6 separate regions of the Homo sapiens genome follow, and all the other regions are linked to region 1. The links come from fine-mapping of genetic effects on gene expression. A gene starts in region 1. Each other region holds a variant in brackets. All regions are shown on one strand. Distances are between the middles of the regions.

Region 1 (4,088 bases):
CGGGTTCAAGTGATTCTCATGCCTCAGCCTCTGAGTAGCTGGGACTACAGATGCGCGCTACCACGCTCTGCTAATTTTTGTATTTTTGGTAGAGACAGGGTTTTGCCATGTTGGCCAGGCTGGTCTCAAACTCCTGACCTCAGGTGATCCGCCTGCCTCAGCCTCCCAGAGTGCTGGGATTACAGGCATGAGCCACCACACCCGGCCTAAGCTTTAAAATTCTCATCTGCCAAGGAAAAAGTTCCTAAGGAATCAATCTCGAGTCTTCTATCCCCTAAAACAAATGTGACTTACAAAACCTAGATGTTCTGATAAAGGTGGGCTATCAAAATAATTTTTTTTTTCCGTGAAATCAATCCTATTTGTCTATTAAATTACATTAGGAAATTAGAAATACATGAGATAATCCATGGGAAGTACAAGTTTAGCCAGAAAAGGCTTAAGACAACAGAATGGAGGCACCAAATAGATTGGTTGCTTCAGAGCCCTTTTTCAAAAACTCTGGAGAACTTCCTGAACCTAGGCAGTTCCCAAAGATAGGAATGAAAATAATGAGGTATTTTCACATGACTTTAGAGTACAACGATTTGTTCTCCCTAAGAAGTTTAATCCCTAGGAACTTTGTATTTGACTTACAAACACCAGAAACTATCATTTCACAAATCGTTACGGAAAATACTCATCTGAAACATTAACAAAAGATGACACTAATAAAAAAACATTTAGTGGAGAAAAATCTATAGTTTCAGGTTAAAAGCACTCATACCTGTGGAAGTGCCGTGTTGAGCTGTCTCTGCAAGGAATCTCTTTCATGACCAACCTCGTGTAACTTCCCCTGGGTTAAGGCCAGCGTTTCTTGAGTCTCTCTCAGTGTATCAAGAAGGCGGTCCCTTTCTTCTAGCATGGAGACCATCAACTGTTCAAAATGTGAATCTGCATCTGGCTGTGAAGGGGAGCCGGAACCATGGCCTCCACCTCCTCCAGGGGGGCCTTCTGCTTCGCTGATGGTCGGCATCACCTCGCACATCATCTTGAAATGAAAGACCCAGGCTACAGTAATTAAGCTCAGAATACAGGTTCCCACAAATATGCAACTTTACAGGTATCTGTAGCTAAAAAGATGGGCAGTCTCATTATGCTCAGATCTGTTATGCTTTGTGTGTAAATAAGCTGGGAAAACATACACAGGGCAAATATTAAGTGCAAAAATACACAACATGAAGACATTAACACAGACAAAAATCCAGGGAAGGGGTCAAGATCCCAAAGGACTACCCTCACAAAAAAGGGCAAGCCCTGGGGTAGTCTGTTTGCAAAGCTGTACTTGTTTTTGCTGAAAACAAGTGTGCTTCTGTTACCTATTTTTTTTACTTCCCAGTGGGGTGGGGAGGGTGGGGGGGTAGGGGGGGAGAAAGTCAAAACACATGTCACCCAATCATTTTTCAGGAAAAGCACAGAAGGAGCATACAACCAGCAAAACTGACAAGTACAAAATCCATCAGGCATCTTGCAGGAATGTGTGCAGTCAGCTCCCGGGAAGAACTGACGGCTCCCTGAATTCTTGGGCTGGATTTGGTGAGCACTAAAAGGAACCGGATTCGTTAAACGCTGGTAGAAGTGTTTTCCAATGGCTGCAACGGTTGGTCAACCTAACTTACGTAAGTTTACAACCGAAAAAAAAAATCCACAATGGAAATATAGCAGGTCGATACAGCCGGGGGCGGCTAGGAAAGAGGGAAAAGTGAAAGGTGAGATTACGAGAGTCTATTAAGTGTCTGGGATATAAAGACAGCGCCAGGGAAAGGGGAAGTCGCTTCTGAGCCTTTCGGGCAGTACTGGGGGCGCGGTGGACCCCTGAGAGGGGGATGCCCCAGACGGCGCACCTGATGGGGATGGTGACCTCCAGCCTGCTCGAGCCGCACTCCTCCCCTCCTGTATCAGGTGCGGCGGAAGCCCCGAACCCCGGGGGGTGAGGACCGTTGACAACGGAGCCCGCTCGGGCCAGGGCTTTCAGCGGCCACAGGTCCCCGCCCCTCGCCCCAGCGCCCGGGTCACGGGGCGCGGGGCTCGGGGAGGGGCAGCGCGCAGTCCCCGGAGCCGTCCCTTGGGGCGCGGGTGTCCCGCCGGAGCTCTCCCAGCGCGACCCGGCGCCGCGGCCTCGCCCCCACCCGTCCCGGAGCGCACCCTTCCCCGCGGAGACATCTAATCGGCTGCGTGGCCGCCGCGGAGACCGGGACGCGCCGGTGACGCCTGGGCCCCGAGCCTGCCTCAGTGTCCCGCTCCCTTACCTTGCTCGCCGGCGGGAGCGGGCGAGGAGGCTCCGCGGCGGCTCGCGGGCGGCTGCTCGCTCCGGGAGAGCTTGGGAGCCGACGAAAGCAGCCCGCGGCCGGCGTCCGCCTGCCCGCCCCACGCCGCGGCCCCGGGGCCCGCCGCCCCAGTCACTAAGGCCGGCCCGCGGCCGGACACTGGCGGAGCGGAGGAGGAGCGGGCCCGGCTGCGCGGCGCCGGCGTCTACGTGCCCGACGTCGAGCGCGTCGGCGCGAGCGTCAGCACCGCCCCGGGGGCGGGGCCCGAGGAGCACCTTGGCCCGAGTACGCAAGCGCTGTCTCCTCAGGAGGGGGCGGGAGGCGGCCCCGGGGCACTGATTGGCTGAGCGAGACGGGAGCCACGCCCCCCAGGCCCCGCCCGGGTCGCGGGGGAGGGGGCGGTCTCCGGGATGAGCCACAGGTGGGCGCTCAGGTGCTCGCCGGGTCAGCGTCTTCCTCCGGGCGTCCCCAGTTTCCCCCCACGGCTGCAGGGACGCCGGAGGCCTTTGCTGAGTGTCTACCGCGCCTCGAGTTCTGAGCTGGACGCGTCCGGCACGTCAGGTCCCTCCCGAGCTGGAGGCTCTGGATTCGCACCTTGCAGAAGAGCGAACCGAGGCTTCAGTCACCACCGAGGACCCAGACCCCGCCCGCCGCGGCGCCCCTACGGTCTCCCTGGGCCTGATCTGGGTTCAGAAGGACGGAGTTCCCGCCAGGACCCACTTACGGAGCGCTGCCTGCCGCACCTGGGGACGTCCCGGCGCAGCGTCCAGAGTGCAGGCTTTGCCGCTGTGGCTTTCACTCTGCAGCGTGGGCCCGGGCGACTCGGGAAACCCGCCTGGGCTTCAGCGCCTCCGATGTAGGATGGGAAAATGATGCAGACCTACCTGCGAGGCTGCTTTAAGACATGAATCAGATGTGAAGAGCGACTAGTTGAGAGCCTGACGGGCAGCACTGCGCGAGTCTTGGTCATTTCATCTTTTCCGCAAGTTTTTTTTTTTTTCCAGACGTTGTTTCACTCTTGTCACCCAGGCTGGAGTGCAATGGCGCCATCTCGGCTCACTGCAACCTCTGCCTCCCGGGTTCAAGTGATTCTCCTGCCTCAACCTCCCGTGTAGCTGGGATTACAGGCGCACGCCACCAAGTCCAGATAATTTTGTATTTTTAGTAGAGACGGGATTTCTACATGTTGGTCGAGCTGGTCTCGAACTCCTGACCTCAGGTGGTCTGCCCGCCTCAGCCTCCCAAAGTGTTGGGATTACAGGCGTGAGCCACTGCGCCCGGCCTCAGCAAGAATTTTTAAACATCTACTATGGGCCAAGTCTTGTGCTAGATGTTGCAGATACGGAGATGAATAGAGACACCTCTAATTAATTAAAGCGGATGCCCTCCCCACTCCTCCCAGGATTTGACTCGGAGCACAAACTCTTCACAAACCAAAATGTCAGGACACCATCGCCAGTGTCCACTGGCCACTGCTGTTGGTGTGAGGCAGCCAGGAGCCCCTCAGAACTAGTAAGTCTGAGAAGAGGCTGCACGGGGCCTAGGAGAGGGAGAAATGAGCCCGTCCAAGGTGAATTCCTTGATTCTCCATTGTGAGTGCACCAAGAACAAGCACTCCCTCCGACTGACTCTCGCCTACCAGGATCTGGAACACCTTCCATTAATTTATTCGTTCATTCAATAAATATTTATTGACTGACTACACATAGATATGAATATGTACTTTTTGCCCCTAGTTTCTTGCTATTTTAAAAGTGTAAAAATGGCCAGGTGAGGCCGGGT
Region 2 (4,088 bases), 83 kb before region 1:
TGAGAAAACTGAAGCACAGAGATGCTAGGCCACTTCCTCAACGTCACAAAGTGAACCTGGGCAGGCGCCAGGGCCGACTCCAGTGCTCAGGCAGCTGAGTCCAACTCTCACCCACCCTATCTCCTGGTTGGACAGCTTTCCAAGATGATAGGGATACCAGTGTGAGTTTCTTCGAAATTTCACAAACACTAAATCTTCCAGAAAGTACGGCTTAATTAAGGCTGTAGGTAAAGCTTTCAGAATATAATGTATATATACATAGCTAGCTATTATAATTAACAAACACTAGTTAGAGCTTAGGCACAACTGAAAACCATTCAATGAGATGAAGAAATAACACAAAGCTTACTTTTTTTGAAGTTTACGATTTTTTTCAGCCTGTCCCCCCAATTTGCTAAGTCCCAAGGCATCCTGAGATGAGTTATCCGTCTCGGAAACACCAGCTGTGAGGAAGCAGAACAGCCCAGAAGTAAAAATCAGCATGACAAAGCTCTATGTTTTCATAAATAGGCAGATGAATATTTGCAGGTTCAGATTTAAATCATTTCTTAAGGCTAAGTTTCTGACTAGACAACCAAATGCCCAAGACGGAAATGCTCAAGACAGGAAATGTGTTGTACCTGAGTGGCAAGTGAGCATAAACTGCTGCTCTCTAGCTCCCATGCCTTCACAGCTGCTGCTCCCTGGAGAGCACACGGCTCCTGGAGCACCGCGTGGGAACTGATGGCACCGAAGGCAGTGCCTTCCTCCCCGACCCCTGGGTGCTGAGAAGGGTGCGGAAAACCAACCAACCTTGTCCTAATGCTTCTTTGCCAGTTTGTCCAGGTCGGCCCTTTTCTTTCTTGCCAAACAAGCGGCCAATGGAGGACTTAATGCCTTTCTTCTTTGGGGCTTTGTGGAGCGAGTCCTGGCTACTGTTGCTACTGCTGGGGTTGCTCACGGGACCATCCTGGGAGCCTGTGGAGCTTCGAGGAAAGAAAACGGATCTTTACTATGTGCCCTTGTAGGATACTTCACATATTAACAGTCGCAAACTTCCCTACAAGCACTTCCAGTCTCTTTCACACACATCTTCCTCACCAAGTGCATCATGCATGATAAAGGCAGACTCCCGGCGAGGCCAGCGCGGAGACCCATTCTGGGCAGCTGAGACTCTCTCTGACATGGAGCTCCCCTCCCCTTCAGGGGAGGCCCTGACTCCGCGCCATCAGGTGCCAAAGCCCAATGGTCTGCCTGCTTCCCCTCCAGCAGCTCCCACAACCGCCCTGAGCATTACTCTACTCAGCTGAGAACCGTGGCAATGTTAACTGCCTGAGGGGTTACTGCAAAAATTAATATACATGCCTCCCCTGCATATTGCCTGGCACAGAACCGAAATCCAATGGAATTTAAAAAAAGAGGGGCCGGGCGCGGTGGCTCACGCCTGTAATCCCAGCATTTTGGGAGGCCGAGGCGGGCAGATTATGAGCTCAGGAGTTCGAGACCAGCCTGGCCAGCATGGTGAAACCCCATCTTTACTAAAAATACAAAAATTAGCCGGGCATGGTGGTGTGCGCCTGTAGTTCCAGCTACTCGGGAGGTGAAGGTTGTGGTGAGCCAAGATCATGCCACTGTACTCCAGCCTGGGCAACAGAGCAAGACTCT[A/G]TCTCAAAAAGAAAAAAAAAGATAGCATAGATAGCATACTAGTAACAAAACAGCTGATTGGTTTCCTGAGAGGGGACACTCACTAAATTGGTAAGTACAACTTGGAACTCTCCACAGTTTACAAAAGGCACAAGAAAGGCACGGGTTGTCCTAGAGAGCGGTTCCAATACCAAGCCTGTCATCTGCTTGCCAAACTCTCCATCAAGAATAGAAAGTAGTCAATTTATAGACTCTGAAGACATGAAGTTTTTCCAAAACTTGCTGATATCATTTAACTCCTTTCTTTCCAAACTAAGCTTGCCCAAACAGATATGCATCTTCTGCTGGATTTCACTATAGCCCAGAGCAGTGGTAAGCATTCTAAGTGTAACATGTAAATACACTCAACTGAATTAATGGGTAATTCTACAAAATCACTGTTTTACTCAAGGAAAGATTTGTCGATTTCTCAACACCAGAAACGAAAAGACAGGTGCGCTCTGCATGGGGCTGCTGCAGGCTCCTTACTTCCTTATGTCCCTGATGTCCTCGTGGCTGACGGTGTGCAGCGCCCCTTTGTGCAGCCGGTCTAACCGAAGGGCTCTCGGGGAGGAAGGCGGGGAGGTTTCACACTTTATGGTTGTCTTGTCATCTCGTACCTCTTCTCTGGAAGGTGGCAACTGAGGGGTGAGAGAAGTGCAAAGTTAGTTAACAGCAGACTGTGAAAAACTCAGGCCTTAAATTATAGCCATAAACTTCTTTGAAAATCGATTTGCTGTGCTTTCTGCCAGCACAGAAAGTCTTGTTTCAGTCTGGCACCATTCTGAAGGGCCACGCAGCACAGCACCACAGAGTTGTCAGACTCCTGGTCTGCCTCCCCACGAGCGTGCGCTGGGGCCCAACAGGACACAGGTATGCCCCTCATCCTCAGCCTCCTCCATGCAGCCCAAGGTTCTGCCCTCCCCGGAATCCTAGGCACATCATGAGGACAGTCTCTGAAGGGGCAGCAGAGATCTGAACAACACCGATAAACCACATCGTTACAAATGTGAGACAGCATTAACTTGCACTAATGAAGAGCCAGTAACAAATACGTTTATCTCCTGATGTCCTTCAAAAGAAACACTAGAGAGGGCAAGAAACCACTTGGGCAAAATTGTCAAATACCTTTTTTGTCTGAACGGGGTAAAAATAAACAAGGAACAGCCCATGACCCCCATACACATGTGTATGGCTCATATTTCTCAATGTTTGGATGGACACTATAAATTCAAGCACTTTTATGCAGTTTAAACATTTTTGTTCAATATAGCTTAAAAGAAAATACTTCTAGGCTTATCATTACAAGATGATCTTTGTCAGACTCCCAGGGTTTTTTTGTTTTTGCAGTGGAACGTGAATACGCCCATGTGCTGAGGGAGCAGGATGGTGGTTAACAACAGTGAACAGACTCACCCCTGCAGGGTCTAGGCAGATCCTGCTTATACATTTGTGTTTTCTGGTTTTGAGTGGGACTGGATTTCATAAAACATGTTCAGCAAGCATTACTATAAACAGCAAGACTTGAACAGTGAACTTTATTTTATTAAAAATAAATTTTAAGAGCCAGGTTCTTGCTGTGATTCCAGGCTGGACTGCAGTGGCTATTTGCAGGTGTGATCATGGTGCGGTGCAGCCTCAAACTCCTGTGCTCAACTGATTCTTGCCTCGGCCTCCAAAGTAGGTGGGACTACAAGCACGTACCACTGGGCTCAGTTTGAATTTCTGCTTCTTAAATGGGATTGTGTAAAGTGTATCAATCCTACTGTAGCCCCACTGTGGCTCAGGGAGGACCAAGTGCATTCAATGCAAAATGGAGCTGTGCTCATTTAGGACAGAATCTCAACTAACAGTTAAAATGCAAATGAATCCTGCATCCTTTCCTAATTTCCAGTTGCAATCACAAAACAATGAAAGGCTTTCAAAGCTAGAAATTATCAATATGAAGCTTAAGTTTCAAAATTCAGGTTAAAACAATCATCTGTTTTAAAAAAACAAAACCAAAAACAGAGTACAGAGAAAGCTGACACGCAGCCAGCTATAAGCTGGTAACAGGGTCTGGGGAAAGCCCCGTGAGCCTGGCCAGCGCTGCCCTCCTCATCCCTCCACACGCCGCCCTCCGACACCTCCACACGCCGCCCTCCCACCCCTCCACACGCCGCCCTCCGACACCTCCACACGCCGCCCTCCCACCCCTCCACACGCCGCCCTCCGCACCCCTCCACACGCTGTAGTGCTGTCACGTGCCAGACTTCTGCCTCCATCCCAGCTCAGGCCTACTAGAAAGCAGGGAAGTCCTCTTGGTCTACACCAACACCACTGACACAGAGAAGGAAGGCGACAGTCTCTTGTAGACAAGGCCTGGCACTCTGCACGCACCCCTGGTTTAACCTCACAACCACCCGAGGCCTAGGCTCCTCAAAGAC
Region 3 (4,088 bases), 34 kb after region 1:
ACTGGCAGAAGGGAGGGCAGCATTCTGGATCATTCTAGACATTTCATTTCAGGAGAGCGAAGAGGGTCCAGACGTGCTGGCTCACATCTGTAATCCCTAGCACTTTGGGAGGCTGAGGCAGGAGGATCACTTGAGGCCAGGAGTTTGAGACTTGCCTGGACAACATAGTGAGATGCCCATCTCTACAAAAAATACAAAAATTAGGTGGGCTTGGTGGCACACACCTGTAGTCCCAGCTACTCGGGAGGCTGAGGTGGGAGGATCACCTGAGCCTGGTAGGTCAAGGCTGCAGTGAGCCAAGACTGTGCCACTGAACACCTCCAACCTGCAAGACAGAGTAAGACCCTGTCTCCAAAAAAAAAAGAGAGAGAGAGTAAAGAGAACTGTACAAGATGTGGGTTATAAAAAGGGGCATCAGAATTCTGACACATTCTACTCCATGGATGAACCTTGAGAATATCATGCTCAGTGAAATAAGCCAGACACAAAGAGACAAATACAACTCCATGTCCACAGAGGGTTGATTCCAGGACCTCCTGTGGATACCAAAATCCTCAGATGCTCAAGTCACTTATATAAAATGGAGTAGTGTTTGCATATAACCTACATATATCCCCCTGTAGACTCTAAATCATCTCTAGGTGACTCATAACACCTAATAAAATGTCTACGCATCACTTCATTTGCATGGATTTAATGCAATGATAAATTCAAGTTTTGCTTTTTGGAACTTTGTAAAAAGTTTTTGTGCATTTTTTTTCTTTTTCTTTTCTTTTTTTTTTTTTTTTTTAGCTAGGGATGTGGTCTGTCACCCAGGCTGGAGTGCAGTGCTACGATCATGGCTCACTACAGTCTTGATCTCTCAGGCTCAAGCAATCCTCCAACCTCAGCCTCCCAAGTAGCTAGGACTATGGATGCACCTGCCTGTAATCCCAGCACTTTGGGAGACTGAGGCAGGTGGATTACTTGAGGTCAGGAGTTCAAGGCCAGCCTGGGCAACACGGTGAAGCCCCATCTCTACTAAAAATCAAAAATTAGCTGGGTGTGGTGGCCAGGTGCCTGTAATTCCAGCTATTCAGGAGGCTGAAGCAGGATAATTGCTTGAACCCAGAAGACAGAGGTTGCAGTGAGCCAAGATCGCACCACTGCACTCCAGCCTGGGAGACAGAGCAAGATTCCGTCTCAATAATAATAATAATAATTTTTTTTTTTTTTTTTGTAGAGATGGGGTCAAGTGACCCTCCCACCTCAGCCTCCGAAAATGCTGGGATTATAGGTGTATACCACCGCGGCTGGCCTGAGAATATTTGTAATCTGTGGGTGCTTGAATCCATGGATTTGGGACACATGGACATGGGAGTCTGACTGTAATGTAAGATTCAGCCTACACCAGGTGTCTAGCGTAGTCAGATTCACAGAGACAGAAAGAAGCTGCTGATTGTCGCGAGTTTCAGGGAGAGGGGAATGGGGAGTTAGTGTTTAATGCAGACAGAGTTTCCGTTTGGGAAGATGGAACAGAATTCTGGAGATGGATGGTGGTGATGGTTGTGCCACAGTGTGAATGTGTGAATGTTCCTTTTTTTTTTTCTTTTCTTTTCTTTTCTTTCTTTTTTTCTTTTTTTTTTTTTGAGAGGGAGTCTCACTCTATCGCCCAGACTGGAGTGCAGTGGCACCATCTTGGCTC[A/C]GTACAACCTCCACCCACTGGGTTCAAGTGATTCTCCTGCCTCAGCCTCCCGAGTAGCTGGGATTACAGACGCACTTCACCATGTCCGGCTAATTTTTGTGTTTTCAGTAGAAACGGGGTTTCACCATGTTAGCCAGGCTGGTCTTGAACTCCTAACCTCAGGTGATCTGCCCACCTCGGCCTCCCAAAGTGCTGGGATTACAGGCGTGAGCCACTGTGCCCAGCTGTGAATGTTCTTAAGGCCCTTGAACTATACACTTGAAAAGGTTAAGATGGTAATTTGTATGTTACATGTGTATGTTACATGTGTTTACCACCATTTTAAAGAAGGGGACCATCAGCTTCAGAACTGCTGATCCTGATTCACATGTCAGAGGCCACAAGAGACCACAGGACAAGTTTGCAGCTCTGGGTGACAGGACTATGGAGAAGCATCCGGTTAAATAAAGGCCCCTTCTGTCCAGATGGCTGAGACGGAGGGAGGAGACAGAGGCCTGGGGTCCAGCCTGCCTTCCCTTCTTCCCTCCAGTCAAGGAAAGTGACTTTTTTATGATTCTTATTTCCTGAGATGTGAAAGTAAACCAGGGGCCTGGGGGTGCAGGAGAAAGATTTCTTAGGTAGTAAGTCTTTTCCCAAATTATTTATTTATTATTTTATTTTATTTTATTTTATTTTATTTTATTTTTTAGAGACAGAGTAGTGCTCTGTCACCCAGCTGGAGTGCAGTGAGTGGCACAATCATAACTTACTGCAGCCTCCAACTTCTGGGCTCAGGTGATCCTCTCGCCTCAGCCTCTGAGTAACTGGGACCACAGGTGCACGCCACCACATTCTGCTCATGAAAAAAAAATTTTTTTTTTTTTTTTTTTTTTTTTTTGGTAGAGACAGGGGCAGGTCTCACTATGTTGCCCAGGCTGGTCTTGAACTCCCGGCCTCCAGTTTTTCTTCTGTCTCAGCTTCCCAGAGTGCTGGGATGGTGGATGTGAGCCACCATGCCTGACCTAGAAATTCTTAATTAAGTGCCACTACTTTGGAAGGGGGATGAAATCAAGTGGTCGGTCTCTGCCAGGATCTGGAATAGGCTGCTAGGGTTCCCAGGCCCCATGCTGATGATGGATCCCTCTCTCCTGGAGGAGGTGGGGGCGCGTGGCCCCACGGGCTCACTCGGCTTGATGGAGAGGCCTCTTCTGAATGCCCAGCTCCCATGTAACATCCTCTGCTGGTCCCAGGTGCCTCCCCCCATTCACCTGGCCTGGGCTCAGTGCCCCATTCACTGCCCTCTGCCTAATGGTTGGCCTAATGGTTGGCCACTCCAAGTGGACCAATGGATTCTTGGCTTGTCCAACTGTCTCCTGTGAGCTGATTCCTATGGGCCATAAACAGGGTGCGACTTGCACCGAGGAGGGATAGGAAGAGAAGGGACAGATGTGGACAGCCAACCTGCAATGACAGCTGTGGTCACCACAGAGATCCCTTATGGGCAGGTAAGATATTCCAGGCACCAGATGTGGTGGCTCAAGCCTGTAGTCCCAGCTATCTGGGAGGCTGAGGAAGGAGGATTGCTTGACCCCAGGAGATCGAGGCTGCAGTGAGCCAGGATTGCGCCACTGCACTCCAGGCTGGGTGACAGAGTAAGACTCCATCTCTTAAAAAAAAAAAAAAGATATTCCAGTTGCTTTACATCCGTAACCCTCCCAGTGGACGTGAGAGCTATCATCTGTGGCAGACTGTATCTCCCAAAAGGTTATTGCAGCAGTGTCTCCTGTCCCATATACTCTTCCACTTTTCCACCTTTCCAATTTTCCACCTTTCCACTGCCCCATCAAAGTCTAGAGTTTACAGCCTGGACAACATAGTGAAACCCTGTCTCTACCAAAAAATACAAAAATTAGCCAGATGTGGGGAGGTGGAGGTTGCAACAAGCCGAGATGGCAGCACTGCAGTCCAGCCTGGACAACAGAGCGAGACCCTGTCTCAAAAACAAAAACAAAAAGTCTGGAGTCTAATTCTCCTGATTTTGAACCTGGGTGAGTTTGTGACTCACAGGCCACCAAGTGGGCAATTTAGCTGTCCTCAGGCTGTCATGTTGGGAGGAAGCCCATACCGGAGCGTCAGGCAGAACCACCCAGTGGGGCCCTTCCTGAATTCCTGACCCACAGAAGCCCTGAGACACAAGAGACTTACTGGGGTTTTAAGCCACTCAGTTTTGGGGTGATTTGTCATGCAGAAACAGATCATTGGAACATCAGTCCATTTCTCAGGTGAGGAAAATGAGGCTCAGAGTGTACCTTTGGAGTACATTTGTCCAAGATCACCTGGCAAATACATAGGAGAGTCTAGACCTAACCCCAGTCTGTGACTTCAAGGTCTGGGCTCCACTTTGCACCTGAACTTATGCACGAAT
Region 4 (4,088 bases), 32 kb before region 1:
CTGCCACCATGCTCTGGAACACGGTGGTCATGCCTGGTGATGCTGGCAGTGATGGGACAATCAAAACATGAAGTAAATATATGCAGGTGACAGGAGGGGTGCCAGTGTCTCAGGCACCTTGAACTTGAGAAGGGCAGGGCACTTGATTAACATCCCCACTTCTCTAGTAAAATGAGGGGGTGCTGACCTCCCTGGCTAATGAGGATAGGAAAAATCAAAGTGTTTTCCCTACTTCCACACACACCACCACTGCTGACACCAGATGTCGGGGGTGTAAAGCAATTCTGCCGCTGTGTGCCTCTAATTCCATGCAGTTCTGCAGCTGTGTGCCTCTAATTCCATGCAATTCTGCACTGTCCAGCTGGAGAGTGTATCAATCCCACAGGGTAAGGCTCAGTCCCACAAGACCACTCCCCCAGTCCTTTGCAGGTGCCAAGTACAAGTCCCAGGTTGTGACCTGTGCTTCTGACCAACCAGCTATGAATCAGGGTTCCCATGATACCCTTCTCGGGTTCAATTAAATTTGCTGCAGCAGCTCACAGAACTCAGAGGAGCACTTTACTTACATTTACCCATGTATTATAAAGGATATCACAGGCTGAGCATGTTGGCTCACATCTGTAATCCCAGCACTTTGGGAGGCTAAGACGGGAGGGCTGCTTAAGGCCAGGAATTTGAGACCAGCCTGGGCAACATAGTGAGATCCCATCTCTAATTTTTTTTTTTTTAAAGGCTATCACAAAGGACCCAGGTGAACAGCAGAAGGAGAGATGCACAGGGCAAAGTATGTGGGAAGGGGTGCAGAGCTTCCATGCCCTCTGAGGGCACTACCCTCCAGAAACTGCTACATGTTCAGGAACCCAGAGCCCCCAGAATCCTATCCTTTTAGGGTTTTAGGCTTTGTTACATAGGCATGACTGATTAACATCATTGGCCACTGGATAACCCAACCTTCAAACAGAAGCTAGGGCATGGAGCTCAAAGTCCTAACCCTCTAATCCTGCCTAGGTCTTTCCAGTGACCACTCCTTTTTTCTTTTTTTTTTGTCTTTTCTTTTTTTGAGACGAAGTCTCGCTATCTCCCAGGCTGGAGTGCAGTGGCGCGATCTCAGCTCACCGCAACCTCCGCCTCCTGGGTTCAAGTGATTCTCCTGCCTCAGCCTCCGGAGTAGCTGGGATTACAGGCACACACCACCACGCCTGGCTAATTTTTGTATTTTTAGTAGAGACGGGGTTTCACCATGTTGGCCAGGCTGCTCCTGAACTCCTGACCTCAAGTGATCCGCCTGCCTCAGCCTCCCAGAGTGCTGGGATTATAGGCATGAGCCACCGTGCCAGGCCTCCAGTTACCAGTCCTTACCTTGAGGCTACCTAGGGGGTAGCCAGTCACCAGTCACCTGATCAGCACATAAGGACACTCTCAGTACTCCAGAGAGTCCAGGAGCTTGAGAAGCTCTGTGCCAGGGGCCAGGGCACAGACCAAATGTACATCTCTTCTTATGCTACAATATCACACTTGGCACCGCTCAGGAATGGCTTTAGAGTTCACAGGTAAGCAATTCTCCAGAAAAACCTTAGGGTATGCACAAGCTTTCCCTGATTTCATAACAATTGTAGTTAGCATTTTTCAGGCTCATATTAGCAAGGAAAGCCACAAGCAGCTTTTACATGTAATTAAACAATCTGCCAAACTTTTTCCGTGACATTTATTAAATTGGAAATGTCCCAGATGTGTGTGAGTAAGCATTCTGAGACCGCTTTCCAAGACTTGTCAAGGTTCTGCAGACAGGACTCGGTATATTCTGCTAGACCAAGTGCTACCGAAGAGCAGCACTCGAACACGCGGTAGGGCTGCCCGACACTGCGTCAGACCGGGGTCTAGAACCACAGTGCAATGCTGAAAGAATGCAAGGTACGCCAACTGAGAACGCTGGCCAGTGTTTTAACAGACATGGGAGACCACAACTGAAAACTCAAGCCTCAGCATACGCAAGACCAAGGAAAACTGGGCTGCCACTTTCCTTTCAGCCTGTGACATGGTCTTAGAGATGTCAGGTCAAAATTGGGAAGTTTGCTAATTTAATAAACAGGTATCTCAGAGGAATCAAAGGTCTACGTATAAAGCTGTAACTGAAAGACGCCTTATTAGGGATTTCTTCCTGTGGTGTGGTGGCACAAATGTAGTCCCAGCTACTTGGGACACCGAGGCAGGAGGATTGCTTGAGCCCAGGAGTTCAAGATCAGCCTGGGCAACATACTGGGATCACAT[G/C]TCTTTAAAAAAAAAAAAAAAAAAAATGGTGTTGAGAGTATCTACGGCTACATTTACATTTACATTCCTGATATTCTGCTGATGAGTCAAGAAAACACAACACTCTAGTGTTCGAGACCATACAGCTAAGGCTGAATGTATAAATATAAATGGACTTGTTAAAGCTTTTGATTCTGTCTCATGCAGTTTTCTTAACAAGCATGACATTGCCTACCAGAAAACGACATAACTGACTGGCAGAAATGATAAAAAGAAAGGGTTTATTGTCAACCAAGGAAGCGTCTCAAGTGCCCTGTCTCCAGCTCACAGCTCTGTTGCCGCAGTGTGCTCCCTCTGCCCGCCCAGACTCCACTGCCCATCTCCATCCTCCCACGAGGCTCTCAGAGAATGCACTCCAGCCCTGGATAGCCACCTTCCTGTGAGCTCACAGCCCTCCATGCCTTTCCTGTTTCCTGGTCAGCCACCCTTCTCCCACTGCTCCCTGGGGAAGCATCCCCTCTAAGGACCAGTGTGGCTGCCCCACCCTACGAAGCTGCTGGCTGCTCCCTCCTCCAATCGAGCCTCTCTTCCCACTGCTGCCATCCCCACGATCCCCTTGATGCTGAATGGGACCTCACAACCCTCAGTTCAACCATTCCCCCTCCTCTGGGAAGGCTCTTCTGGCCCCTGAGGGCAACCTGGCCAGCTCCTTTCCTGTGCTATGCTGGATTCTGTCTACTGTGCCACTGCACAGCCACCGCTTCACTGCACTTTCGTGAGTCCACTTAGACTCCATGCTTCCCAGCTGAAAGGCTGTGCCCATCACTGTTAAAACCCCAAGCCACAACAAGGAACCGAGCAAAGCAGCCATGTTCACACGGTCACTGCATATGGAATTAACTGAGTAATACTGACAGCTCACATTACTGCACGGTGGTCCCGTGAAACATTCATGTGCTGCGTACTGCGTCTGGCAAAGCAGTCTGACGAGAGCTCTATGAATGGTTTCACCCTCTACTTTAACAAGAAGGCATCTCAAAATGAGCCAAAGATTCAGATACACAACTGTAAACGAAGGTCCTTTATTAAGAATTTCCTCTCTGTGGTTCTATTAAGCTTACTAAATAGACATATAAGCTTAAGAACAAGTACCCCTATTAATTCAAGCACTTTCCTGAACAAAAAAATATTTCTAAGGTGCTATATGCTAGGTACTCAAAAGATGTAAACTGCAATAACTATATTTGTCTAATGCCTTATGATTTTCAAAATACTTTCATATATTTTATCACATTTTACTCTCAGCAACCCAGTAAGGCACTCATAATTACCTTATTTTACAAATTAGAATACAGACCCAGGCAGATTAGAGAGGTACAAAGGTCACTCAGCTAGTAAGTGGCTTGGGACTCGCAGCCCAATGCAGATGTTATCTTCAGGGGAAGATACCATGGTGAGGACCAAAACCAAGTGCGCAGGGAAGCTGAGTTCTCTCCATCTTCCCTGTGTTGGGGGCTGTGTTGAGTGGTTTGCAGAGACATGCCTCACATCAAATGAATGTCTACTTTGTGCAGGCTAGCATGGTAGATACTTTATGTTAGTTCTCATCAAGTCTACTTATTGGGTAATAAGTAGTATCTCTATTTTACAGATTTTATAGATGGCAAAACAGTCTTAGAGGTGAACTATCTTGGCCAAGATCAGAAAATTGGTACGCAGAGGACCCAAAACTTCTAACAGGTATGTAGGCGAGAGGGAACAAGGAGTGACTGGGCAGAAAACAACAGACTGCCATTGCAGCAGTTAGTAAAAATGAAGGGCCTGTTTACACAGTAAACCCA
Region 5 (4,088 bases), 48 kb before region 1:
TGGAAGGGACCAGGGATCTCTATGGGGTCTCTTCTAAGCACATTATTCCATTCACAAGGAGTCCACCCTCATGACCTAATCCCCTCCCAAGGGCTCTACCTTCTAATACAGTGAAACCAGGGAGTGGGATTTGAGCATATGACTTTGGCAGAGCAGGGAACACAAAAGTATTCAGCCCATAGCACTAGTGTTCTGTGGTTGTTGCCCTCCAAGCCTTCCAAGGCCTCCGTCCAGAACTAGGTTTTCCATGGTGATGCAGGATTCTGTTGCGTGGTTATGTCACCAACAGTGCAGACCCTGGTAGAGAACCATGGAATAGCATGGCTCATCCCAGGCCTTGCATTCTACCTCCCTAGGACCACAACTGCCAGTAGAGCCCCAATCTGTATAGCAGAGAATTGCCTTAGATGGGGAAACCTTATCTAACTCCAGCTCCAAAAACCATCTAAGGCCAGGCATGGTGGCTCTTGCCTGTAATCTCAGCACTTTGGGAGGCCAAGGTTGGAGGACTGCTTGAGCCCAGGAGTTCAAGACCAGCTTGGGCAACATAGTGAGACCCCATCTCTACAAAACATAAAAAATTAGCCGGGCATGGTGGCACACACCATGCGTAGACCCAGTAGCATAGACCCGGCTACTCAGGAAGCTGAGACAGGAGGACTGCTTGAGCCCAGCAGGTTGAGCCGTGATCACACCACTGCACTCCAGGCCGGGTGACGAGAGCGTCTCAAAAAAAAAAAAAAAAAAAAGTAGCTACATCTAGTTCTAACTCCACTGAACACTTTAGTCCCTGTTACCCTTACCCCTGTAAGAACCCACTTTCCTACTGACACTGCCTGCTTGGAGCCTGCGGCTCAGTGGCCAGTGAAATCCAGTCAATTCAGGCTTACCATGCTAGGTTTCTAGTCTGTTTGTGTACTGAAGGGTATTTCTCTTGCTTGGTGGGCTGGCTATGCTTTTTGGTTTGTTTCTCTACTTAAATTGTACCTTTTCACTGTTGTGTTTGGAGGGGAGATGCATCAAAGCACAAGTGAGTGCTTCCACCTCGATCGGACGTTACAGTTCTTTCAAGAAATAGTGCATATCTCGTCTATGCTGGCCGCTGCAGCAACACAGAAACAGGGCCTGTCCACTCCTCAGGATGCTTTAAAGAACAGACAGACGAGCTGGCAGGAACCTCAGAGCAGTACGTGCTCTGGGTGAGAGGTGACCAGGATACTGCGGGAGCTGAGTTGAAGCCATCCATGATGGGAAGTGGGAGTGCTTCTCGGAAGGTTTGCTGAAGGACACAGCACTTGAATTGAGCTGAATTCTGAACATGCTGTATAGCCAGTGAGAGCCTCTTTCACAAAAGCAGAAGGTATCTGATAAGCAAGGGCTTCAGCAGGGCTGGGGCATGGGCAGCGTGTATGGAGGAAGCCGGTGAGGTCATAAGTGGGCAGCCATTCAGAGAACAACAGCACACAGCATGAAACCTGGATTTAATGTTGAAGGCTATAGAAATCACCTTATCTACAGGCTTTGAGGACTCTGAACAGAAAATGGGGCAAAACTGGTAAAGTCTCAGTCAGTCATTAGCATAAGGGATGTGCTCAAAATGGGTGTGTTGGAGCAATGAAAGGTCGCTGGAAGCACTGCTACCCCCGGGCTGGAGGAGATTAAGACTGGGAAATCAGCAGTGAGTTCACTGCAATAATCCCAGGGATTAATGAGGATCTGAACTAAAATCAATATTAGAGAAAAGAAAGAGCCTAAGTAAGGATTCTCATGAGCCGTGCCCTTCACCCGTTTTCAAAGGATTCCCCTGGATGCTGTCTTCAGAACAGCCTGTGAGAAGGTGAGGCCAGAAGTGGGGAGATGGGTAAGAAATGACTGCAATTATGCAGCAGACCAGGGTGGGCTCACCGCAGGTGGTGAGAAGCAGGGACTCTGGACCTGTTCACCACAGAGCCAGCAGGAGCTCCTGACAGGTCAAAGATCGCAGAGAAAGAAAGGCACGAGGATGCCTCCAAGGATTCTGGCGGAAGCAAGTGAAGGATGGAGTCATTGGTTCCTGAGAAGGGAGTGA[C/G]TACGGGAAGAGTATGTTTTGAAGGGAAGGTGTAAAAGTTTGGGTTTGGACGTGCTAAATTTGAAATGGTTATTAGACAGTTGAGCGCAATTCACAGTCTGGAGTTTTTGGGTGTGTTGTAGAGACTGCAAATGGGGATAATCATTTTGTTCCATGCAAGTCAGTGAGGCCCTGGGTGGAGGGTGAGAAGAGATGGGGATCAAGCCCCCAACAGTCTCATTGAGGGGCATCAGCAAAAGAGGCTAGGAGCAATCAGGGATGAGGAGGAAAACCAGGAAACCCTTCAAGATCTTTGAAGATCCTTATTTCCAGGAGGATGATCAACTGTATTCACTGATGCCAGTGGATCAAATGAGCTGACTGATGCTTGTTGGTCGGACTTGCTGGAATGGAGATCGATGGTGACTGTGACATCTGCAGCATGCTGCAGTGGCGGGTCAAAACCCTCACTGGACTGAGTTCAAAGAGAATGGGAAGAGTGGAAGTAAAGCAGGGAGTACAGAAAATTCTTCCAAGGAACTCTGCAGTAAAGGGGAAGAAAAACAGTGCAGTGGCTGGAGAAGATATGAGGTCAAGAAAGACCTTTGCAGGATGAGACAGACATTTGCATAGTGAGGGCAAGAATCCAGTGGGGAGGTGGGAACTGATGAGTCCAGCTGAAAGCAGGTAAGTCAAGTGACTAAGAGGAGAGGCTGACCTTTTCTGGGGCACACAGATCACCCGCAGTAAAGGGAAAGAGGGCAGACGACATGGGGTGCGGGGTGCAGATCCAGAGGTGTGGTGGGAGTTGGTGGAACTTCTTTTCTGATTTCTTCCAATTTCACACAGAAAAAAACAAACACAATGTCATCATTCTGCATTTACATTTGGGGAAGATAGGAGAGGAGAAGGTATGAAATGGCATCTAGAAGAGAGGACGGGTAGGCAGCATGCCGCGTAGAAGAAAGAGGGCGGGATGCACTAACAGAGATGCTGGCGGCACTTAGGGCCTCTGCGGGTCAGTGGAGGTGAATGGGCATGGAGAACGGACTGAATGGGGTGGTTTCTGCCAGGTAAGCGCAATGAAGTGGAAGAGGCAAGGGAGCTGAAAGGCTGGCAGGGCTGGGAGGGTAATAATGGACCAGTAGGGGAGATGAAGAATCCTGACAAGGTGGCAGGGTCCTAGGACTGTCGGTCCCAGGAAGGTGGAATATCGGTGTTTTATTTTTAAAAGTCTATTATGAACAAATTTCGTCACCTTTAAATGAAAGCCCTAGTCAAAGCCTAAGTCCTCATAACAAGGAGGACCTGGAAGTGGAGGAAGAGCACTTCACAACTCGGATGATGCAAGAACCATGCAGCCTGAGTTACTACTGCACAGACCATCCATCCAGAAACAGGAAGGCTCCCACCTGGCCCCACCTTCACTCATGCACAAACCCCCCAGCACGCTGTCACTCTTCCGGCACCAGCAGCAAGCCTTTTTCTGTTTCATACAGTTTCCCTAAGGTTTTCCTAAGAACCCCAAACTATCCTCATTTCAACTTCCAGATTTTAGATTTGCCTCTAAAACCAAAGAGAATACAGGGAATTTCTATTATTTTGGTTAAATGTAAGTATTCCCAATATATTCAACTACCAAAACTATTCTATGGTATACTGCTGTGGCTACAGTAGAAAACGAATTCATAGACGTTCATGATTACTCCACTTAAAGAAAAAAACCTTTCTCTCTGCTCAGAAGAATCCAACAACTGAAAATATATCAAAGCAAATTTAAACTTAGCAGTTTAGGTAAACATTAGACGGGACATTCCAAAGTTTAAGATCCCAAAAGCATGTTCCTGTATGTACTGCTTGCATTATTATTGCAGAAAAAAAAATAGTAGGAACCCCAAATATGTGCAATAAATGATCTACCTTATTACATCAGAGGAATCTAATTGTCAGTGTACATTTTTTCCTATTTAGGAAAAAAAAATGTTAAGTTTAAAAATACTGTAAGTCAAATATATCACTAGTTTAAAGTGACATTCTATTT
Region 6 (4,088 bases), 59 kb before region 1:
TCTAGCTGATCAGTTTTTAACAGATTGAAACAAACTGAAATGCAGATACAGACTAAGAGAGTCATGATGGAAGAGCTACAGTGATGGGAGTTGCTTCTGGGTCAGGTTTTTGTTTTTGTTTTTGTTTTTGTTTTTGTTTTTGAGACATAGTCTCGCTTTGTCACCCAGGCTGGAGTGCAGTGGCACAATCTTGGCTCACTGCAACCTCCACCTCCTGAGTTCAAGCAATTCTCCTGCCTCAGCCTCCTGAGTAGCTGCAATTACAGGCATGTGCCACCAGGTCTGGCTAATTTTTGTATTTTTAGTAGAGACAGGACTTCGGCATGTTGGCCAGGCTGGTCTTGAACTCCTAACCTCAAGTGATCCACCCGCCTCAGCCTCCCAAAGTGGTGGGATTACAGGTGTGCGCCACTGTGCCCGGCCTGGGTAAGGTTTTCTTGCTGCCAGGAGTACATGCCCACTTTCCTGGTCTTGGTTTCAATGTGCAAAACACCTCTTGTCAAAGTGTTTGCTTTTCCTAAATAACTTTTAAGAAGCTTTTTTTTTGTTTGTTTAAAGACAGAGTCTTGCTCTGTCACCCAGGCTGGAATACAGTGATACTCGTAATTACAAGAATAAGTATGGTTTACGAAACCACAGGAGACCCAATTTCTTACTACAGACTTCACTGCCTTTTTTTTTTTTTTGAGACGGAGTCTAGCTGTGTCACCCAGGCTGGAGTGCAGTGGCACAATCTCGGCTCACTGCAACCTCCGCCTCTTGGGTTCAAGCGATTCTCCTGCCTCAGCCTCCTGAGTAGCAGCTGGGATTACAGATGCGCGCCACCAAGCCCAGCTAATTTTTGTATTTTTAGTAGAGACGCAGTTTCACCATGTTGGTCAGGCTGGTCTCAAATGCCTGACCTCATGATCCACCTGCCTCGGCCTCCCAAAGTGCTGGGATTACAGGTGTGAGCCACCGCGCCTGGCCGCATTTTTTATTTTAGAGACGGGGTCTCGTTCTGTGGCCCAGGCTGGAGTCCAGTGGCACAATCATAGCACAATGAAGCCTTGAACTCCAGGGCTCAAGTCATCCTCCCTCCTTAGCCTCCTGAGTAGCTAGGGCTAAAGGCACATGCCACCATGCCCGGCTAATTTATTAATTTTCTGTAGAGACAGGCTGTTCTCACATTCCTGGGCTCAAGCGATCTTCCCACCTCAGCCTCCCGAAGTGTTAGAATGACAGGCATGAGCCACCGCATCCGACCAAGACTTCATTTGTCATACTATTCATGTATCATAGTGCTCCCACTTAGTTACAAATAGCCAATTGCCTTGAAGTTCTTTGCCACTCTCTGCTCCTTTGGTAAAAATGCTAACAAGCAATAGATTAACTTTCAATTACAACAAAAGAAAAAACTGAGGACAAAATTGGTTAAATCAAATCCTACGTAATCAAAACCTCTAAACTGAAGGAACTCCCACATGTCTTGAACATAATATTCTAAGGTCATAAAAACTTGATATTTGGACTTGATTTCCAACATGAAAGTGAGAGAAAAAGGGTCTTTAACTTCATTAATAATTAACTAAAGCCAGACAAAGGTCGATAAAATCCATTACCTGTCGATGCATAGAATCTTTATTTGCAATTTCATTTTCAAGTTTATCATTGAGGTCATGCACAGATGTGGCTTCACGCTGTGCAGCGAGGTAGCGTTTTTCAAGAGTAGTGATTCTCTCTTCCATATCTTCCTTTTGGGCCATGGCCTAAATTAGGTATTTCAGAGGGGACAAAAAAGTAGGTAATTAACGATTACACATTAAGATACTTAAGAGAGAAAAAAACTGAAGTAAATCCCAAATTTCCAATCAAATTAAAAATTAGCATCCTCAGGCCAGATACAGCAGCTCACTCCTATAATCACAGCACTTTGGGAGGCTAAGGCGGGAGGATGGCTTCAGGCAAGGAGTTCAAGACCTTGTCTCTACAAAAATATTTTATTTTGTTTTTTGAGTCAGAGTCTCCCTCTATCACCTAGGATGGAATGCTGTGGTGCAATCAAGGCTCACCACAGCCTTGACTTCCCAGGCTCAAGGGATCCTTCCACCTCAATCTTCCCAGTAGCTGGGACTACAAGCGCACACTCCTATATCCAACTAATTTTTAATTTTTTGTAGAAATAGAGGTCTTACTATATCGCCCAGGCTGGTCTTGAGTTTCCTGGGCTCAAGAGATCCTCCTTGGCCTTCCTTTGGCCTCCCAAAGTGTTAGGATTACAGGCGTGAGCCAGTGTCCCTGGCCAAAAACATTTTAAAGAAACAAAAATTAGCCACGCATGGTGGCACGCCCCTGTAGTCCCAGGTACTTGGGAGTCTGAGACAGGAGGATTGCTCGAGTCCAGCAGTTCAAGGCTGCAGTGAGCTATGATGGCGCCACTGCACTCCAGCCTGGGTAACAGAGAGAGATCCTGTCTCAAAAA[T/A]AAATAAATAAATAATAATGTCCTCAAAATTAAATTGATGAAGATGTCAATTTTCTCAAATGTGAATGAAAATGTAACTACCTCAAATACCATAAATATTCACCTATACGATTAACAAAGACTTGTCTCTCTTAATACTATGTCTGGCCACTCAGTTGACCAAGCTTTCCTGTTTCTACATAATATTATAAAAATATATACACTCAAATATCTAAATATTTTTCAAGGAGGTGAAAGTGTCCTCAAAGAAGACGCAGTCTACGTCTGCCTCACGCTACAAATGGTCTCACACAGGACAGGGTGCGGCCTCTCTCAGTGGACACAGTAGTGAGATACAAGTCTCACTTTCTAGGATAAGGGTTGGATGAACTCTCATACAATTACAAGACTCAAGCATATTGACAAATGGAAACAGAAGTACCAGTTTAATTTAATTGGATGCAACTACCTGAAGTCTACAAGATGATTACTATACAGTTTCAAACACTTAAGGCTAGGACCAGAACTTTTTGCTTGAGAAATACCTGTCCTCCACCCCCAGAATTCACTATTTTCAAGTTGTTCCCTATTTATAAAATGACTAAAGTTAGCAAAGTCTAAATATTACAAGTGATAGGGGAAAAAAGCTCAACATCACCGATTAGACAAATGCCAATCAAAACCACAATGAGACAGCATCTCACACCAGTCAGAATGGCTATTGTGGAAAAGTCAATCAGTAACAGATGCTGGTGAGGTTGTGGAGAAAAAGGAATGTTTTCCTGCTCTTGGTGGGAGGGTAAATTAGTTCAACCATCGTGGAAGACAGTGTGGAGATTCCTCAAAGACCTAAAGATGGAAATACCAACCCAGAAATCCCATTACGGGGTATATACCCAAAGGAATATAAATCGTTGTATTATAAAGACACACGCACACGTATGTTCACTGCAGCACTATTCACAACAGCAAAGACAAGGAATCAACCTAAATGCCCATCAATGATAGACTCCATAAAGAAAATGTGGTACGTATACACCATGGAATACTATGCAGCCATAAAACAGAATGAGATCATGTCCTTTGCAGAGACATGGATGGAGCTGGCGGCCATTATCTTTAGCAAACACAGAAACAGAAAAACAAAATACCTCATGTTCTCACTTATAAGTGGGAGCTAACTGATGAGAACACAGGGACAGACAGAGGGGAACAACACACACTGGGGCCTATCAAAGGGTGGAGGGTGGAGGATAGGAGGAAGAAGAGGATCAGGAAAAATAACTAGGCTTGGTACCTGGGTGATGAAATAATTTGTAAAACAAACCGCCAGGACACAAGTTTACTTATGTAACAGACCTACACGTGTACCCCAAACTTAAAAGTTAAAATAAAAAATTAAAAAATAAAAGTGATAGGTCTTAAAAGAATTTCAAAATTCTCTGCATATTAATCTCTGCCACATAATCTCCTGCTGTAGCCAAAGAATAGAACCTTAGGTGACATACTACATGCAAATGTTCTTCCTGTGGTGAATTCCTACATGAAATTACTCAACGTCAAACTACCAAACTGAAAAGCAGACATTCAACGGTTGAGGCGCCTGACAAGGGACAAAGCGCAGGTTAGAAAGTGACAGGAAGGGCAC

The links. PIP is the estimated chance that this variant, and not a neighbour inherited with it, causes the effect. A credible set is the group of variants that fine-mapping cannot tell apart.
Region 2: its variant is the best candidate, but not a certain one, in a credible set for the expression of PPFIA1 in whole blood (INTERVAL, PIP 0.57).
Region 3: its variant is the best candidate, but not a certain one, in a credible set for the expression of PPFIA1 in whole blood (TOPMed, PIP 0.77).
Region 4: its variant is the best candidate, but not a certain one, in a credible set for the expression of PPFIA1 in spleen (GTEx, PIP 0.53).
Region 5: its variant is the best candidate, but not a certain one, in a credible set for the expression of PPFIA1 in lymphoblastoid cells (GTEx, PIP 0.60).
Region 6: its variant is the best candidate, but not a certain one, in a credible set for the expression of PPFIA1 in unexposed skin (GTEx, PIP 0.79).

What each region holds. Positions count from the first base shown.
Region 1 is chr11:70,269,115-70,273,202 of GRCh38, reverse strand. PPFIA1 (PPFI scaffold protein A1) reads right to left here and starts at 2,513. Exons shown (of 28, transcript NM_003626.5): 1 at 2,289-2,513; 2 at 767-1,030. The coding sequence starts at 1,030. RefSeq lists silencers at 1,909-2,338, 2,379-2,928.
Region 2 is chr11:70,352,516-70,356,603 of GRCh38, reverse strand. It overlaps PPFIA1 (PPFI scaffold protein A1), which reads right to left. Exons shown (of 28, transcript NM_003626.5): 17 at 2,152-2,303; 18 at 793-965; 19 at 350-443. Among named protein-coding and RNA genes, the nearest start is that of CTTN-DT, 44 kb to the left of the region's middle. The variant A/G (reference allele first, on the strand shown) is at 1,645.
Region 3 is chr11:70,235,415-70,239,502 of GRCh38, reverse strand. No RefSeq gene overlaps it. Among named protein-coding and RNA genes, the nearest start is that of PPFIA1, 33 kb to the left of the region's middle. The variant A/C (reference allele first, on the strand shown) is at 1,685.
Region 4 is chr11:70,300,976-70,305,063 of GRCh38, reverse strand. All of the region lies in intron 2 of PPFIA1 (PPFI scaffold protein A1), which reads right to left. LOC107984346 (a long non-coding RNA gene) reads left to right here. Exons shown (of 3, transcript XR_001748288.2): 2 at 3,899-3,987. Among named protein-coding and RNA genes, the nearest start is that of MIR548K, 19 kb to the right of the region's middle. RefSeq lists an enhancer at 2,296-2,795. The variant G/C (reference allele first, on the strand shown) is at 2,269.
Region 5 is chr11:70,317,098-70,321,185 of GRCh38, reverse strand. The region is part of intron 2 of PPFIA1 (PPFI scaffold protein A1); the gene reads right to left. Among named protein-coding and RNA genes, the nearest start is that of MIR548K, 35 kb to the right of the region's middle. RefSeq lists a silencer at 573-754. The variant C/G (reference allele first, on the strand shown) is at 2,069.
Region 6 is chr11:70,327,833-70,331,920 of GRCh38, reverse strand. It overlaps PPFIA1 (PPFI scaffold protein A1), which reads right to left. Exons shown (of 28, transcript NM_003626.5): 8 at 1,602-1,748. Among named protein-coding and RNA genes, the nearest start is that of MIR548K, 46 kb to the right of the region's middle. RefSeq lists a silencer at 2,413-2,549. The variant T/A (reference allele first, on the strand shown) is at 2,462.